4 linked regions of the Homo sapiens genome follow. The protein of the gene in region 1 purifies or fractionates together with the protein of each later gene. This does not show direct contact. Each region holds a gene or a part of one and is shown in the gene's direction. Other genes may lie near its edges. The genes, in order: GSTO2, RBM12, FKBP1A and LIN54.

The links.
Region 2: the proteins of GSTO2 (region 1) and RBM12 purify together in Homo sapiens (affinity purification with mass spectrometry; 2 studies listed by BioGRID and IntAct, with this or other methods). This does not show direct contact.
Region 3: the proteins of GSTO2 (region 1) and FKBP1A fractionate together in Homo sapiens (co-fractionation; one large-scale study listed by BioGRID). This does not show direct contact.
Region 4: the proteins of GSTO2 (region 1) and LIN54 purify together in Homo sapiens (affinity purification with mass spectrometry; one large-scale study listed by BioGRID and IntAct). This does not show direct contact.

What each region holds. Positions count from the first base shown.
Region 1 is NC_000010.11:104,281,908-104,286,460, forward strand, and holds part of GSTO2 (glutathione S-transferase omega-2), read left to right. Parts: intron 1-4,027; coding exon of another isoform or gene 4,028-4,060; exon of another isoform or gene 4,061-4,083; intron 4,084-4,553. UniProt on the Homo sapiens protein: Exhibits glutathione-dependent thiol transferase activity. Has high dehydroascorbate reductase activity and may contribute to the recycling of ascorbic acid. Participates in the biotransformation of inorganic arsenic and reduces monomethylarsonic acid (MMA).
Region 2 is NC_000020.11:35,647,731-35,652,021, reverse strand, and holds the end of RBM12 (RNA-binding protein 12), read left to right. Parts: 3' UTR 1-3,097; downstream 3,098-4,291.
Region 3 is NC_000020.11:1,368,740-1,373,292, reverse strand, and holds the end of FKBP1A (peptidyl-prolyl cis-trans isomerase FKBP1A), read left to right. Parts: intron 1-114; exon of another isoform or gene 115-215; intron 216-1,052; coding exon 1,053-1,181; coding exon of another isoform or gene 1,182-1,217; exon of another isoform or gene 1,218-1,577; intron 1,578-3,220; coding exon of another isoform or gene 3,221-3,264; 3' UTR 3,265-4,315; downstream 4,316-4,553. UniProt on the Homo sapiens protein: Keeps in an inactive conformation TGFBR1, the TGF-beta type I serine/threonine kinase receptor, preventing TGF-beta receptor activation in absence of ligand.
Region 4 is NC_000004.12:82,933,993-82,938,545, reverse strand, and holds part of LIN54 (protein lin-54 homolog), read left to right. Parts: intron 1-41; coding exon 42-133; intron 134-1,247; coding exon 1,248-1,319; intron 1,320-2,164; coding exon 2,165-2,267; intron 2,268-2,427; coding exon 2,428-2,565; intron 2,566-4,553. UniProt on the Homo sapiens protein: Component of the DREAM complex, a multiprotein complex that can both act as a transcription activator or repressor depending on the context. In G0 phase, the complex binds to more than 800 promoters and is required for repression of E2F target genes.

The sequences.
Region 1 (4,553 bases):
ACAAGGGTGAGAGCCTGGTGTGTTCGGCAAACAATAATCAGTGAGGGGTTGACAGCGAGGGAGTGATTGGTAAGAGGTGAATGTGGAGGGTGGACCAGAGTCAGATGCTAAAAGGCCTTTTCCACTGTGCCCAGGGATTTGCACTTTATTTCAGAGTTGATGGTGAGTAATTGAAGCCTGTCAAGCAGGAGAGTGGTGTACTCCTTCATGCTTTTAAAAGTATTCAGTCCATCACTTGAACCCAGGAGGGGGAGGTTGCTGTGAGCCAAGACTGCGCCACTGCACTCCAGCCTGGGCAACAGAGTGAGACTCTGTTTCAAAAAAAAAAAAAAAAAAGAAAAGAAAAGAAAAAGTATTCAGCCCAGCTGAGCACAGTGGCTCATGTCTGTAATCCCAGCACTTTGAGAAGCCAAGACGGTAGGATCGCTTGAGCCCAGAAGTTTGAGAACACCCTGGTCAACATGGCAAACCTCCATCTCTTTAAAAAATACAAAATGTTAGCTTGGCATGGTGGCTTATGCCTGTAGTCCTAGGTACTTGGGAGGCTGAGATGAGAGGATCACTGGAGCCTAGGAGGTTGAAGCTGCAGTGAGCTATAATTGCACCACTGCACTCCAGCCTGGACAACACAGTGAAACCCTATCTCAAAAAAAAAAAAAAAGAAGAAGAAGAAGTTCAGCCCAGCAAGAATGTAGAGGATGGATTAGAGTGTCCAAGAGGAGGGACTGGGAAGGGACAAAGAGGACCCCACTAACGAGGGTTGGAGAGGGAGGTTTAATTAGAGAGATTTTGAGGAACTAAGATGAGATGAAATCTGAGGAAGGAGTAGGAGTTATGGAGGATGGTTTCCAAGTTTGTGGCCGGTAAATGTGATGCTTTTCACTAAGAGTTTGAGGGAAGACACATTTTGTCAAATTTGTGGTGTTGATGGGATATTCATATGCGGGCAGAGCTTAGAAGAACAATGTATGGTCTCTACTGGACCTTTGGAATGGTTTTATGGGCTAGGAGCTTTCACCAGAGAGTTTAGGAATGTCATTAGTGGGGTGGTGATAAATGTTTAAGAATCAATTTTCTCTTAAAAGAGAAAGAAAAAGAAAAAGCACGGATTTATAGCATTTGCTGATTTGGGTGGTGTAAACACTTCCGTCAAGGTTAATTTTGAGCTACCAATGTGCTATTTCTAAACTCAAGAGCTGGCAAAAGATGTGGGCAGCTCCAGCATGTCACTGAATAAGAAATTTCACTTTATCTTCAATAACTGAGCCCCAGGAACACTGTTGTTAACCAGCCTCTATATAGGTAGCTTTCACTAACCAGCCTCGGTGTAGGTAGCTTTCACTGATGCTATTTAAGGACCACTGAGTACTCCACATTGTCCTAACAGGTTTGAATGTGGTTTTGTCCCATAGAATGTTAGCAAGAATTGTAGCTATGGCTGGGCGTGGTGGCTCACACTTGTAATCCAGGCACTTTGGGAGGCCAAGGAGGGAGGATCACCTGAGGCCAGGAGTTCAAGACCAGCCTGGGCAACACAGTGAGACTATGTTTCTACTAAAAATTAAAACATGAACTGGTCATGGCAGTGCGGGTCTGTAGTCCCACCTTCTCTGGAGGCTGAGGCGGGAGCATCTTTTGAACCCAGGAGTTTGAGCTTGCAATGAGCTATGATCGTGCCACTGTACTCCAGCCTGGGTGACACAGCAAGACTCTGTCTCAAAAACAAATAAACAAAGAATTATAACTACAATGTAGGAAATATTGAAATCTGAAAACATGACCAATGTACTTGAATTATGCGATCTGTTCCTTTAAATGCCAAAATATTTATTCCAGGAGATTCTAGTGAAATTGAAATTTATCAGAATAATTCTAATGGAGAGGATCCCCTGATTTATGTAACTCTTTCACATGGTTTTGCACAATCAGGATTTTTTGTGAGCTAAAAATATATTAAATACTCATTGTCTTTCTGAGTGATAAGCAAGCCAAGATTTCATGCATAATCTTCTGCTATGTTATCCTGAAACAGAAGGCTCAGTTAACCTTTTGTGGCCTTAAACTCTGACACTTTCTTCTTTTGAAATAACTGCCTTGTCTAACTTTTTAAGTTTTTTTTTTTTTTTGGCTTGTTTTTTTGTTTGCTTGTTAGTTTTTTAAATCTAGTTTCAGGTGGGTTCAGTGGCTCATGCCTGCAATCCCAGCACTTTGGGAGGCCGAGGCGGGCAGATCATTTTAATCCAGGAGTCCGAGACAAGACTGTACAACATGGCAAAACCTTATCTCTACAAAAAATACAAAAATTAGTTGGATGTGGTGATGCATACCCGTGGTCCCTGCTACTTGGGAGGCTGAGGTGGGAGGATCACTTGAGTCCAGGAGGTCAAGGCTGCAGTGAGCTATGATCATGCCACTGTACTCCAGCCTGGGTGACAGAGTGAGACTTTGTCTCCAAGAAAAAAAAAATTAAGTTCCATCAAAATCAAAGATTTATTGTGCTTGTTATATAACCACATTTTTCTCTAATATCTTTTACAATTCTTTGAGATATATTACTGCCACTTTTATTATCAAACTAGCAGCCTGCTCACTGGCTTTCCTGTTCTGAACATTGGCATGAGTTTTAAAACTATGACACTTGTCTTGTCTTGCTGCACTTTATGTCTTCAAGCAGATTTTCTAGCCCTTACTGAATCATTACTCTAAGCAGCACACATTTTTTAGTTTTATTCTTTTTCAGGTATTGACTTTCCCATTTCAGAATGGGACTTGAGCCAGGCTTCATTTGATCTTTGTGGATTTGAATGTGGCAGGACCTCTTGGTGTCACTTTTTATCTGTGCCTTCCAAAAATATTTTCATTATGGAAGTAGTCAAATCAAGTCCAAGTGCAGTGAAAGGTGGATTTGGTCAGATTTCCTTGAGGCTTTGGAGTTTTGCTTTAAATCTAGAAAGTGTTCGTGGCTTCTGAATTGGTTCTGCACTCTGACTATTGCTTGGTCCTTTCTTCGTCATCATCAGAGCTCCATAAAAGAGAGCGGGGAGGGGATAACATAAATAATGCTGAAATAGCCCTGAGGGATGAGACATGGCCCAGCAACTGAAGCCTTCGTCTGCCCGTGGCCACAGGGCACTTTATGGTTTTGCTTCTTGTCATTCAACCACCTGCCTTGGGGTGCTTCACTTTGCATTTCCACGCAGAGTTTCCCGCATTGCCAAACTTGATCATGTGCCTTATGTGTAGCAGTTTGCATGAGGTGGAATTTGCATAAATTATGTGTGCATCACCCAGGAGCATCTGTAGTTAAATACTTTATTGATTCTAAATTTTGCCCATAATCTTAATTTTTTAATTATTTTATTTTCTTTTCCTCTTTTAGAGATTGGGGTCTCTCTCTATTGCCCAGGTTGGAGTGCAGTGGCACAGTCATGGCTCACTGTCGTCTTGAGCTCCTGGGCTCAAGCAGTACTTCCACCTCAGCCTCCCGAGTAGCTGGGATTACAGGCTGAAGCCACCGAGCCTGCCTCCGTTATCTTAATTATTATTATAATTATTTTTTTGAGTCAGGGTCGCACTCTGTCACCCACATTGGAGTGCAGTGACACAATCACGGCTCACTGCAGCCTCAGCCTCCTGGGCTCAAGTGATTCTCTCACCTCAACCTCCTGAGTAGCTGGGACCACAGGTTCAGGCCACCATGCCCAACTGTTTTGTTTTTGTTTTTATTTGTTTTAATTTTTTGTGGAGACGAGGTCTCACTATGTTGCTCAGGCTGGTCTTGAACTCCTAGGCTCAAGTGATTCTCCCACTTCAGCCTCCCAAAGTGCTATGATTACAGGCATGAGCCACTGCACCTGGTAATCTTAATTTTTAAACTGTTCTTTCTTCTCATCAAAAAAGACATTTATTCAAGTTAGATTATATTGTCTTGGTTTAGTTTTGCTTTTGCTCTTTCTTAATTTTTATTAATTTCCAGTGATGAAATTATTTATATATTGTTTAATTGTTTCTCCTTTGATATCACCAGGATAGGAAGAAAAGAAAGTTTATACCTGGTTAATTCGTCACTGAAAACAATTTTCTGTATCCTTTTATATATAGTAGACTACAAGCTAAATTTTTTATCATCTAAGTTAACATGTCTATAAACTAAATTCATTATTACTAGCTATTTTTAATAAGTTATTGAGATATAATTCATATGCCACAAAATTCACCCTTTTCCAGTGTACAATTCACTGGCTTTTAGTATATTAAGTGAGTTGTGCAACTATCACCAGTATTTAATTTCAGAGCGTTTTTTTTATCATCCCCCAGAAAAACTGCTCACTTGTAAGCTGTCATTTTCCATTTCTTCTCAATCCCTGTGGCTGTACGCAGCCACTGATCTGCTTTCTGTCTCTATGGATTGACTTATTCTAGACACTTCATATAAGTGGAATCATACAACATGTAGCATTTCATGAGCTATTTTCACATACCATAATGTTCTTAAGGTTCATCCTTCATTCTTTTTTATGGCTAAATAATATTCCATGTGTGAATACGCACAT
Region 2 (4,291 bases), on another chromosome or scaffold:
TCATTGTATGTACCTTTATTGCTTCTTAAGGGTCCTTGCTGTATAGACAGTCCTGCTTCAGAAGTTGCTGCTTTGTTTGTCTAATTGACTCATTTGTAAATGAGCAGAACTGTTTTGTTGGTTTTTTTCCCTAAATATAAAAGTCCACACTTCGTTTGTGCTATAACCTCAAACTTTGATTTCTAATGTCACACTTAAAACTGTGTGGAATAAGACTTTTGCCATAAAAATAAACTATGGAGTCCTTTATCTACCAGAGCCTTTTTGGTTTGACCGCCACGATTTAGGTTAGTCAGTTTAAAAATTGTTCATGTTGTTTGGATGGTATCGAAAACCAGAAACCACTTTTAATAATGTGTTTAAGATACTTGATTTGAAGTCCTTTTCATATGGACTAATTGTAGTATCAATTTCCTCCTGTCCCGATTATGTGAAATTTTGGCCTTTAAACAAAGAGGGGCCCATTCATAAGAAAGTGTTATATCTAGGTTTTTAAAACTGAAGTTGAAATTATCTTTGTTAGCAGTAGTAGTATAGAATAAAAGATCCGTATGCTGGTTCGTAGATTGATACGTGTTAGTCCTGTTATTTGGAGGCTTTTTGGCATAGTTGTTCGATCAGGAGCCTGTTTACTAAAAGTCTTCATACAGAGTACAAGTGCAGCCGCCAGAGGAGAAAATTGAGATTCTTGACCCTTTCATACTCTTTTCTTTGGTATTCAGGACACTAAGGCAGGAGGACCACATGAGTTCTGGTTGGTAAGTGTCCTTGTCATGAAAACACTTGCCTTACAAGGCTCTAATTATGATTTCCCTAGTCAGTGCTCTGAAGATGTGTCACATTATATTATAAACAATACGGAAGGGGAGATAGGTGAGATGATATGAAAAACAAATTTTCTCACTGTCATAAAAGGCTCTAATTATGGTTACTTTCCTTGTGATGAAAAACTTGGCCTTACAGGGCTCTAGTTATGGTTACTTTCCCTAGTCAATGCTCTGAAAATGTGTCACATTATAAACAATACAGAAGGAGAGATAGATGAGAGATCATGAAAACCAAATTTTATCTTTTACATGGCCCCTTTGTCTTCGTTTGAAACATCCCCAACATTTCCTACAAATCAGCGTAGTTACAAAGGGGTCAGTCTTTTAAAATAAGTATTTCCTATTAAACTATATATATATACAGTGCCTTTTTGGTGTTGTGAGTCAGTGGAACACTGAAATACAGCGGTTGTGTAATTTAAGAGTGGCAACAGTTTCATTTGATAAGATTTGAAAAGGCTTTTTATCACTACAATCTTAGAGGATTGACAGTACAGGATTTTTGTTTAAGAGAAGGATTGTTTAGACTCAAGAGGTGACTATGTTGTGGGTCTTTTGATAATTCATGAATACAGATTTGCTTTGACCGATCACTAGATACTGCCTCCTCAATTTCAAAAGCAATATAACGTTTGTATATGCTGTTTAATTTAAGTTAATGTTAAGTAATCATTTCTCATTCCAAAGACAATGCAAAAAACTTCAGCACTGCTTGAGAGTTGTATTTCAGCCACAGATATTTTCTCCATTGGAAAGCTATTTTCATTTTAGAAAAATGGGTTGTTTGAAGATGAAAGTCTTTTATCTTTTTTCACAATTTATTTTGGTTATATGTTCGTACATTCTTATTAAATATTTCATACACTTTATTGCAACTACTTTGTTATTTCTACATCTTAGATAAATGCTGAAAAGGAAAACGATTTCATTGTTCATCTAATTAAATAAATTAAAAGAGCGGTTTGTGTAGAAATTGGAGAGAACTATGTTTTATATGAATCACAACAGTGCTCGTTGTGGACTGTAATTAAATGCTTTGCCCTCTGGAACTTGATTTTTGTGTATCTGAGATTTATTAACAGTGCTAACTGCTAAGGATACTGTTTATCTTGTTCTGGGCATTGGAGTTTCAGTTTTTAAAAAATTCTTGAAAATGTATTCTGTGAAACTACTCATACCTCTCTTCCTGCGAATTTTCTCCTAAGAACTAGGTTTGGGGTAGAAATGAATTGACATTATTTTCTCATTTGCTTTGTATGGTATGAAGGATTTGTAAAGCTTTGCTCAAAGTTGTGTGCATTTGTAAACACTATCATGATATTTTCAATTTTATGTGTAAATTTTATTGTCTGTTTTTGGTGACTCTGACATTAATGGAAGAGAATATTTTCCATTAGATTTAATTTTTTTTCCTCTCCCTTCTGATTTTTTTTTTATTGGTGTTCATTTTTCTTTTGATTTAAAGGATTAGAGAAATCTACAAATGTATGTCATAAATAAGCAAATTTGTAAACTTTTCTGAACTTTAGTGAAACATTTAGTTCACAAGCATAATTTGGAGGTGTGTTCTGTGTTTACACAGTAGTTTGGATGTACAATTATTATTAGTGGCTTTTTAAAAAATGAAACAGTGTTAAGTGAAATGTAGTTCCTAGCTTTGTACTCCAAGTTGTCAAAGCATCAACAATGAAAATTCGATTAGGAAACTTTATTTAAAATTTCAGGTAGTAATATTCAGTGTAGTTAAGGCCAGTCTTAACCCACTGGATGAAAATCTAGGACTGTATGGAAGTAAGCAAACATTACATTTTTAGGTGGAAATAGTCAGCCTTGCATAAAAACAAGGATGCGTGAAAGCCTTAAATTCCAGCTCCCTTTTACTGGAGTCTGTGGTTGTGTACAGGTATGGGCCAAGTGTAAAATCTCATCAATTTTAAGAACACTCGGGAAATGAGTAAAGAAAATGTAAAATTGCTGCTAGTCAAATCTTTTGGAAAGAATTTCTGGAAGTGGTCACTTTAAAAATTATTTTCCACCCTTGCAAAATTGCCACATTTAAATTGTTTTACTGGCAGTTCTATAGTAGTCCAGACTTTAGAAACCAAACACAACAAAATGGCTTGTTGCCAATATGGCCACAACATTGCCAGCAAATACTGCCTTGGCATCACTCAGCAGAGGTTTTTGTTTATAAAGATGAAGTCTTGAATACTGTTCAATAAACTTGTCAAAAAATAAAACAGGCTGATGCTTTTAATGCTTTAACTGCACAAAAGTACTTTACTGAGCTATAATATTATCTTGTCAGGGTTTTTGTTTTGTTTTGTTTTTAAACCTGAAAATATTTTGTGCCTTTGGAGAGGTAGATTTGGTAATCTTGGAGAGGTAAAAATTGTTGCTTATCCTTGCCTGCTAATGCTGAAGTGTCAAGAGAAGAGGATACTTGGAACAGCAGGGAGGAAACTTGATTCAAGTCCATAGTATCCACCTTTTCAGAATTTTATGTGTATGATGTGTTGGCAAACAAAGCCCTTAAATGTTGAAAACTTTTTATCTTGAAAGAGTTTAGCTTGTATTAGAATTTGGATACCCAGTGTGTTTTAGAGGGGGCTAGACATATAATTCCAGGTAGTAGCTGAGCCATTATTAAATAATCGGGATTTGACTAAGCAATGGACAAATCACTGAGTGAAATCAGCTGCCTACAGATATCCAAAATGGCTTTTACCATCTGAAAGGGGTGGACTGTGTGATAATATGTCTCCTTTTCTTGTTCAGGAGAGATCAGTTATGTAATTCATTGTTACCTGCTTTCCAGTGTTTTACAGCAAGAAATAGTTTATCAACTATGTGCATCATCACTAATCTCCCAAAAGTAGAGCTTTTACAGGGTATGGTAGAATCAAACTTATGGCTTTCCTTTTTTATTAAAAATGGCTTTATTTCAGTCTTATCTTTTTAGTATAGAATCTGATCATTTTGACTTGTGAAATGTTCTGGAAAGAGTGTACTCTGGTAGTAGCACAATTCTCTGATGTTACAGTGACTTTTCTGGGAAAACCCCTGTCTATTCAACAACATAAGCAAGTTCATCTCCTGCTCAGGTAAATGGTAATTTTTTTTTTTTTTTGAGATGGAGTCTGTATCTGTTGCCCAGGCTGGAGTGCAGTGGTGCGATCTCGGCTCACTGCAACCTCCACCTCCTGGGTTCAAGCGATTCTCCTGCCTCAGCCTCTCAGTAGCTGAGACTATAGGTGCGTGCCGCCAAGCCCAGCTAATTTTTTTTTTTTTTTTTTTCATTTTTAGTAGAGACGGGGTTTTGCCATGTTGGCCAGCATAGTCCCCACCTCCTGATCTCATGATCCGCCCACCTCGGCCTCCCAAAGTGCTGGGATTACAGGCGTGAGCCACCGTGCCCAGCTGGTAAATGGTAATTCTTTACCATGCTGTTCTTGGGTTTATTC
Region 3 (4,553 bases), on another chromosome or scaffold:
TATGAAACCACTCCTTCTGTGATGGACTTTTGAGTTGTTAGCAGAATATTCTGGAAATAGAATTGCTGAGTCAAGGAATATGATTGTTTTGAATTGTACAAGGTAAAGCCATACCTCACTATCCTTACCACCTTGGTCCAACATGTCCCAGCTTCTGAGGGGAGCAAGGACTAGACGCTTCACAGCCTGGAGCTTCCTCTTTATTCATCCTCTGTCTGGTGGAGTTGGAAAGTCGGGAACATACACATGGAGACCAAAAGCAGAGATAAGTCAAAGGATGGAAATACTGCAGAGAACCTGCTCACTGTTCAGAAAGTAGATATTTTATACTTATTTGTGTATTTAATTTGAAACTGAAAATATACACAAATATATTTTTTAAAGTAGAAATCTCTCCTTACTGGTCACTCACTATCCATACTGTTCTCCTCACAGCAAATGTCTGGTATGTCCTTCCAAAGATGTTTTCTGTTGTAGGCATATCAATATTTTCACAAATGGTATTCAGTAAATGCTATTTTGTAGCCCAGAAAATCATATTGTCTTTTTTGAAGTTTTCCTATATGGGTAAAAGAGTATAAATAGAAAAAATACAGAAAAAATAGACTACCCTCAAGTATTACTTCCTGTGTATATATTTTTTTAAAGCAAAGTTGAGTATTCCTTTTTCAAGAAGAGCATAGATGGCACTTAACATGTCCTTTAAGTGACAGATCACTGAAGGGGACTAGGTGGTGAGACATCTGGAATGTTACCTGCCTAGCATTAGTCATTAAGACTTGCGTAGAAAGGTTGAGGGCCTGACCGTTCTGAGAGTCAGGAGGGGTTTTGAACTGCCATTGGGCTTCTTGGAGTGAGATGCAGGGGTGATGGAATATGACTGCCAACCTCCAAGTCCTGCACAAGGAGGTGGTGATGCCTGGGCAGCTGCAAAGTCACTGGAAAGTCAATACCATCCTGGCCAAGGAACACCTAGGTAAACAGCTCTTTTTCTTACAGAGACAGTTGGGGCATGTGTCCAGCTGAGTCTGTCTTCCTTGTTCTTTTCACAGATGAGTGTGGGTCAGAGAGCCAAACTGACTATATCTCCAGATTATGCCTATGGTGCCACTGGGCACCCAGGCATCATCCCACCACATGCCACTCTCGTCTTCGATGTGGAGCTTCTAAAACTGGAATGACAGGAATGGCCTCCTCCCTTAGCTCCCTGTTCTTGGGTAAGGAAATGGAATACTGAAGGGCCCTTCACTGCCTTTGCTCCTCCCATGTTATGCCCAGCGTTTGATGGGTAGCAGAGAGAACAAAAAACACCACAAGGCTATTTTTCCCCCTGCATTCTTTCTGTATTGAGTATCCTTTCAGTGTTATTAGTGTATGCTTTGAATGTAAAAATTGGTCACCCTAAGGAAAGGAATTGGCATGTGTATGTTCCCAGTTCAACTCATGGAGATGGCAGCTGTTTAAATGTTTTTCTATGTAGTTTATAAATTAAAACTGAATTGAGGACTATGGAAATGTAGGCCAAATTTGTAGTGCCAACATTTTAGTTCTTTGGAAATAAGACTCTTAATGAATGACTTTGTTCTACCCTGTGTTTCTAGAAGCTAGAGGGGGAAAAAAAAAGCCCTTTGGATATGAATATCATGTCCTAGCTTCTGCGGCTCTCTCTTCACTGTGGTTTGTGGTTACTGCCTATTAGATGGTATGAGGGAGGCATTCCTGCATCGGTCCACCTGCTCAGGGTCCACACCCAGGACACTTGAGGCCCCCAGGCCAGCTTATCAGTGAGTGAAGTGGAAAAATGAAGCCAGAGGATGCTTGTGAAGTTGAAAGGATGCTCTTAGATCAGACAGTTCTAGGAAGGGATCTTAGGGGCCTCTGCATCAGCTTTATTGTGCAACAGTAAGGAAACAGGGCCAGAGAGAAAGGCCTTACTCAAGGTCACATCCAGGCAGTGGCAAAGTAGGACCAGAGCCCCTGTTTGTTGATTTTCCCCTCTTCCACCCTCATTTCTTAGGAACTAAACTCAGTATCCTAGTAGCACGTAACTTTTCATGTAAGTGTTAGAATCATTAAGTACATGAATGCTACTGGCTTCCTTCCAACTGGCCCCAGACCTTTTTATTTGCTCCCCTCCTGCCATAGGAACCAGAGGGTCACAGCCAAGGCCTGGGTGAGGACACTTTTGTTTGAAAGCCACAACAAATGGCTGCCATCCTATTTGTGATGGCAGTCAGAGCTACTTGTAACCTGGTCCTGTTGTGCACATCTGTAAGTGGAGGGGCTTTTTAAACTCTCTGTTTGAACCACACACACCTTGGTAATACAGGCCTGGTTAAGTTTGATAACTGGTTTCTTCACCTGTCATTGCTACTGGGAGGGAATCCCTGGCACTTTACAGGGCCTTTGTCTGCCCAGAGGTCTGCACCTAGGCCAAAATCCCTTTCCTGTTCTTTGAGAGCTGAGTCATTTTTTGAACATAACTGTACTCGAGGGAGCCTTGGAATTATTTTCCTGGTTGGGAACAGGCTTTCTGTAAACTTGATGAGGTAGAGGGAGGGGAGAGAGGGATAAAGGCTACAAGTCACCCCGAGTAACCCTCCCAACCCACTGCCAAAGAATGTCTCAGCTTCTTGCAAGAGTCTGGAAGGAAAATCCAAGGGCAAACCCAGAAAGTTTTAAGTTGAGTGAATGAATGAATACTGGAGATATTTTCCCAGTATACTCAACATTATGAATGACCAGTTTATTCTCAGTCTGGACTGCACATGAGAGTCACCTGGGAAATTTTTAAGACTTTCCTGATGCCCAGGTCAAACCCTAAACCAGTTAATCATAATCATGGGAGTGGAACCCAGGCATTAAGAGTTTTTTAAAGCCCCCAGGTGATGCCTATATGTAGCACAGTTTGAGACCCAATGATAGTGGGGAACTGTATTGTCAGCAGCATGGGTGGCTAGCCCTCCTGCTGTCCTCAGCAAGGCAAACTTAACCTTAGATTAAACAAAACACACAGATCAATTTAAGGAGAAAGTTTGTTTCACCTGGGACCCAGCCCAAGTCTTTCTGGCTGTCTCCAGCTGGAACAGAAGTGGCTTGGTCTCAGACTGCTCAGCTGTTGGGGAAGGGATTTGGCGTGGCAGATGGCATCGTGGCTGTCGCCACTGCACACAAAGAACACTGAGTTGCTGGAAACTCACAGATTTTCTGTCCCCAACAGATCTGCCATGGAGGGATCTGGTGCCTCCAGACATGTGCACATGAATCCATATGGAGCTTTTCCTGATGTTCCACTCCACTTTGTATAGACATCTGCCCTGACTGAATGTGTTCTGTCACTCAGCTTTGCTTCCGACACCTCTGTTTCCTCTTCCCCTTTCTCCTCGTATGTGTGTTTACCTAAACTATATGCCATAAACCTCAAGTTATTCATTTTATTTTGTTTTCATTTTGGGGTGAAGATTCAGTTTCAGTCTTTTGGATATAGGTTTCCAATTAAGTACATGGTCAAGTATTAACAGCACAAGTGGTAGGTTAACATTAGAATAGGAATTGGTGTTGGGGGGGGGGTTTGCAAGAATATTTTATTTTAATTTTTTGGATGAAATTTTTATCTATTATATATTAAACATTCTTGCTGCTGCGCTGCAAAGCCATAGCAGATTTGAGGCGCTGTTGAGGACTGAATTACTCTCCAAGTTGAGAGATGTCTTTGGGTTAAATTAAAAGCCCTACCTAAAACTGAGGTGGGGATGGGGAGAGCCTTTGCCTCCACCATTCCCACCCACCCTCCCCTTAAACCCTCTGCCTTTGAAAGTAGATCATGTTCACTGCAATGCTGGACACTACAGGTATCTGTCCCTGGGCCAGCAGGGACCTCTGAAGCCTTCTTTGTGGCCTTTTTTTTTTTTCATCCTGTGGTTTTTCTAATGGACTTTCAGGAATTTTGTAATCTCATAACTTTCCAAGCTCCACCACTTCCTAAATCTTAAGAACTTTAATTGACAGTTTCAATTGAAGGTGCTGTTTGTAGACTTAACACCCAGTGAAAGCCCAGCCATCATGACAAATCCTTGAATGTTCTCTTAAGAAAATGATGCTGGTCATCGCAGCTTCAGCATCTCCTGTTTTTTGATGCTTGGCTCCCTCTGCTGATCTCAGTTTCCTGGCTTTTCCTCCCTCAGCCCCTTCTCACCCCTTTGCTGTCCTGTGTAGTGATTTGGTGAGAAATCGTTGCTGCACCCTTCCCCCAGCACCATTTATGAGTCTCAAGTTTTATTATTGCAATAAAAGTGCTTTATGCCGGCTTTTCTCAGCTCTGTGTCATGGTGGTTATTTTCAGGTGCCTCCCCTGCCATTTGGTGCAGGGGGATGGGGTTGGGCAGGGTGAAGGAGGGTGGCAGTGGGGATGCAGTTTCAAGATTGTGTCTTGGCAGAAGAATGCAGCAGTGAACATCCTTCCTCACTGGCTATTAACGGGTTGGGGGTCAGAGGAGGGGGAATGTGGGGTAGGTTTGCATCAAAGGAGCTGCCTGAAAGGGCAAGCTGGGATA
Region 4 (4,553 bases), on another chromosome or scaffold:
TTTTGGAAATATGATCTAAAATTAATTTTCTTTACATGTAGCTACAGCAGTCTTCATATGTATCAATAGCAAGCAACTCTACCTTTACTGGAACATCTGGTATCCAGACCCAGGCACGGCTTCCATTCAATGGGTGAGTATTTTGAAAATAGGTACATAAGTTGTTAGATCAGCTTAAATGCAACAGTAAATATATATATTCCAAACTACATCCTCTTTTATTTTTTTCCCCTTAAAGCCATGTGAGCATGCCTCTAAAATACTTGTTGAAATATTTCAAACAGAAAAATTACAGAAATAGTCAATTCCCAAATACTCTATTCAGATTCACCAATTTCACTACACTAGTTTTATTATTCTCTTTCATTCTGAGTATGTTTCCAAAATGATGATGCTAACTATTTTTTATCTTTATTTTTCAAGACAAGGTCTTGCTCTGTTGCCCAGGCTGGAGTGCAGTGCTGTGATCTCAGCTCACTGCAACCTCCCAGGCTCAAGCAATCCTCCTGCCTCAGCCTCCTGAGTAGCTGGAACTCTATGCACATGCCACCATGCTCTCCTAATTTTTAAATTTTTTTGTAGAGATGCGGTCTCACTATATTGCCCAGGCTAATCTCCACCTCCTGGGCTCAAGTGATCCTCCTGGCTCAGTCTCCCAGAGTGCTGGGATTCCAGGCTTAAGCCACTGCACCTGCCCAACTATTTTTAAAATTATGTGAGGTCCTCATTTTTTGTTGATGTTTATTTGTTTATCTATTAATTACTGGCTTTTGCAATATCAGCTTAGAAGCCGTGCTTAATTACCCGGAATCAGTCCACATCCCACTTCCATTTCCTCCTCCACACACTCCTTTTCCTCACTGCTTTTTATAATTGAATCCCAAGAGTTTTGAGGCAATCTCAACTTTTGTTTTCTTAGAAGGGACAGTGTTTGTGGAGTGTTCTTTAGCAGCTATTGATAACTTCTTTTAAAAAAATTATTCCATACTTGTCTCTACCTCTTTCATGTTACAACTTGCCTTTGAACCTAGTGTAAATAGAACAACGTAGCAAACTTTTTATTTTAGATGGACACATTTAACATTGGTTAAAGCTTTATTTCTGGAGGGATTTATAGATTGGAGACTTCTCTAATTTTAAATTAGTTTTAGGTCTAATTTTTTAAATTTTAAATTAGTTGTAGCAACTAAATTAATTTTAGTTACTATTAATTGATTAAATGTATATCTTTTTTTCTATCTGTACAGCATAATCCCATCAGAGTCGGCCAGTCGGCCCCGAAAGCCCTGTAATTGTACAAAATCACTGTGTTTGAAATTGTAAGTGTTTTTGCAACTGTTTGCTTATTTAATGTAATTAGAAATGCACTTAAAAGTAAATGGAGTTAACTAAAAATTTTTAGCAGACCAAAGCTCATAAGTCTAAGTAATTTAAATAAACATACAAATGAATGTTTGAACATATATGGCAGTGTAAAAATATTATTTCATTCATCTAGAAAGAAATATTTAGAGTCCTTACCATACATGAATCACTGGAGTAGGGGTTAGGGACATAGCAGCATGAGACAGACATAGCTTCTGCCCTTAATAATAATGTTTGATCTTATTTATGACTTTTGTATTTGGTCTCCTAAGTGATGATACTCTAGGTAGTTTTAAAAGTCACTGAATGGTTAATTTGCTTATTAGCATTAAAAAGACTTGACATGAAATAGTTAAATGAAAAGCATTGGTCTTATTGGGGCATAGAATCCAAAGTACTATTACTATAACTCAGATGAGCCAGTTCAACTATTAGAATATAGCTAGTGTTTTTCCTTTTTCAGAATTTTGAAATGCCTTACTTTGGGGGCACATAAAATTTATATGTGTGACATATAATTTATATAATTTATATGTGTGACAGCTCTTGTGTGACAGCTGTTATTGGTTGGACTAAGTTTTTAGGCCACATTTCTAGTACTTGGTGATTTAAACTTTGAGCCTTAGTATGTGGTTGACAATATGTGTTGTTAACTCTTTAACTGGGTAGCTGAGTAGATTTCTGAGATGCTTTACCACATATGTAGTATGTGTACAATATATATACAATGTATGCATAATCAGATAATTAGTTTTCCTTAATAATGACTTTTTACCTTATACTGACTTTTACCTTTCAGGTATTGTGATTGCTTTGCAAATGGTGAATTTTGCAACAACTGCAATTGTACTAATTGTTACAACAATTTGGAACATGAAAATGAAAGGCAAAAAGCAATAAAGGTGATTATTTTTTATTTCATTTAACTGACAGAAATATCCAGTTTCATCAGTTTTATAAAACTCAATTGTCTTGCAAAGAAACGTTATCAATTCCTTTTGCAGTGTTTAAATTTCATCTACTGTGATTTAACTCTAACTGATATTTGATCTGTTTTGCTAGGCATGCCTTGACAGAAATCCAGAAGCCTTTAAGCCTAAGATAGGGAAAGGAAAGGAGGGAGAATCTGATCGACGTCATAGCAAAGGGTGTAATTGCAAACGATCAGGATGTCTTAAAAACTACTGTGAATGCTATGAGGTGAGATGCTGGGTGCGGAAAATAATATCTTTTAAAAACAGTTTTAGAAAGGACCTACTACAAAAATTTACTTGAAAATTGGGAAATCACCTTGCTATTGCAATTTGAAAATATGCACAGTTGGTGCAAAGGCCCTTGTTTTAGGAAGGCCTTCGAGCCTCTGTAGCAGGGCTTCGGAGGAATACCTTGGGTTTATTATTACAGCTTGGGGTCTTACTGGGTGATTTACCATAACTTCTTGGTCATTATGCTCAGAAAGTATGCAGATCAGAACACCAATATATTGATTTTCAATAAAAATAATATCAAAGTGGATTGGAAACTCTCCAGCAGTGATTCTCACCTGAGGTGCAGTTCTACTTACTGTTCTTCACAGGCTTCTTAGAAATATATGGCCGGGTGCGGTGGCTCACACCTGTAATCCCAGCACTTTGGGAGGCAGAGGCGGGCAGATCACTTGAGGTCAGGAGTTCGAGACCTGCCTGGTCAACATGGTGAAACCCCGTCTGTACTAAAATACAAAAATTAGCCGGGCATGGTGGCAGGTGCCTGTAATCCCAGCTACTCGGGAGGCTGAGGCACGAGAATCGCTTGAACCCAGGAGGTGGAGATTGCAGTGAGCCGAGATCATGGCACTGCACTCCAGCTTGGGCAACAGAGCAAGACTCTGTCTCAAATATATAAATATATATTATAAATATATAAATATATATATATATATGGATACAAAATAGCCTGCATCCCAAGGTACAGTCTGGAAATTAAAGGATTATCTTGACCAAAATGCTGGTTATGCCCACTCAAAGAGCACACTGCTCTGCGGAAAACCAAAGTATGTTAAGTTTGCTTTGTGAGCATAAAAATAGGAAAGGGGGATCTGGCATTCTGCTGGATGAGGTTACTGGTCACGGTAGGCAATTGTCTCCATTTTCACTGTTTTGTTGTTCCACTGAGCTGGTTATTTTTACTTATGGGTCAGGCGTCTTCTCTGGAAGATGTAGTTGAAACTCTGCTCTGACAAATGCCATATAAATCTTCCCCTTCTTGCTTTAGACACAGTACTATATAGTTTTATTTTAGAAGCTTATGTGTAACAATCTAGTGATTGAGATTAACCCTAGATTACCATAATTGGTTTCTTGGTATGCCTGAAACTCTTTACTGACAGTCTTTTGGGTGGTTGAGTTATTCCTCTTCTTGGCTCTTCTCATACTCTCATATATTTTCATTCTTTCTTATTCTCAGAGAATTAATTAATTAATTAGTTTATTTATTTATTGGCAGAAAGCCTAGCTTTGCACTTGCTGAAGGTTTGCCCTGCCACAGGAGCATGTCCTCCAGTTCAGTGCCCTCTCCCATACAGCATGTGTCATATGAAAGATTTTGTGTATTGCATTCTCTGTGTAATGAATTCTTTCCTAATCTACTTATTTACAAAGTCAAATACTCCTCTCAGGAAGTAAAGTAGAATAGGGAATAGGAGAGTAACATCTTGTGAGTTCTGCAGATGATATGAATGAAAATTGCATAAAGAGACAAGTTTTTTGTTGTTGTTGTTGTTGTTATTTTGTTTTTGAGACGGAGTCTCGCCCTGTCGCCCAGGCTGGAGTGCAGTGGTGCGATCTTGGCTCACTGTAATATCCGTCTCCTGGGTTCAAGCGATTCTCCTGCCTCAGCTTCCCAAGTAGGTGGGATTACAGGCACCTGCCACCATGCCCAGGTAATTTTTGTATTTTTTGTTTTTAGTAGAGACAGGGTTTCACCACGTTGGCCCGGTTGCTCTCAAACTCAAGTGATCCGCCCACCCATCAGCCTCCCAAAATGTTGGGATTACAGGCATGAGCCACCGTCGCAAGTTGATTTTTTAAACTGTCTTAACATCTCAAAATCCAACAAGCCAGTTTTCATCCAGTGTTGGAATCTTTTTTAGTCTTTCTTCTTTTGAATACCTGATGAAATAGCCGGCTTGCGTTTAGAAGCCATATCAT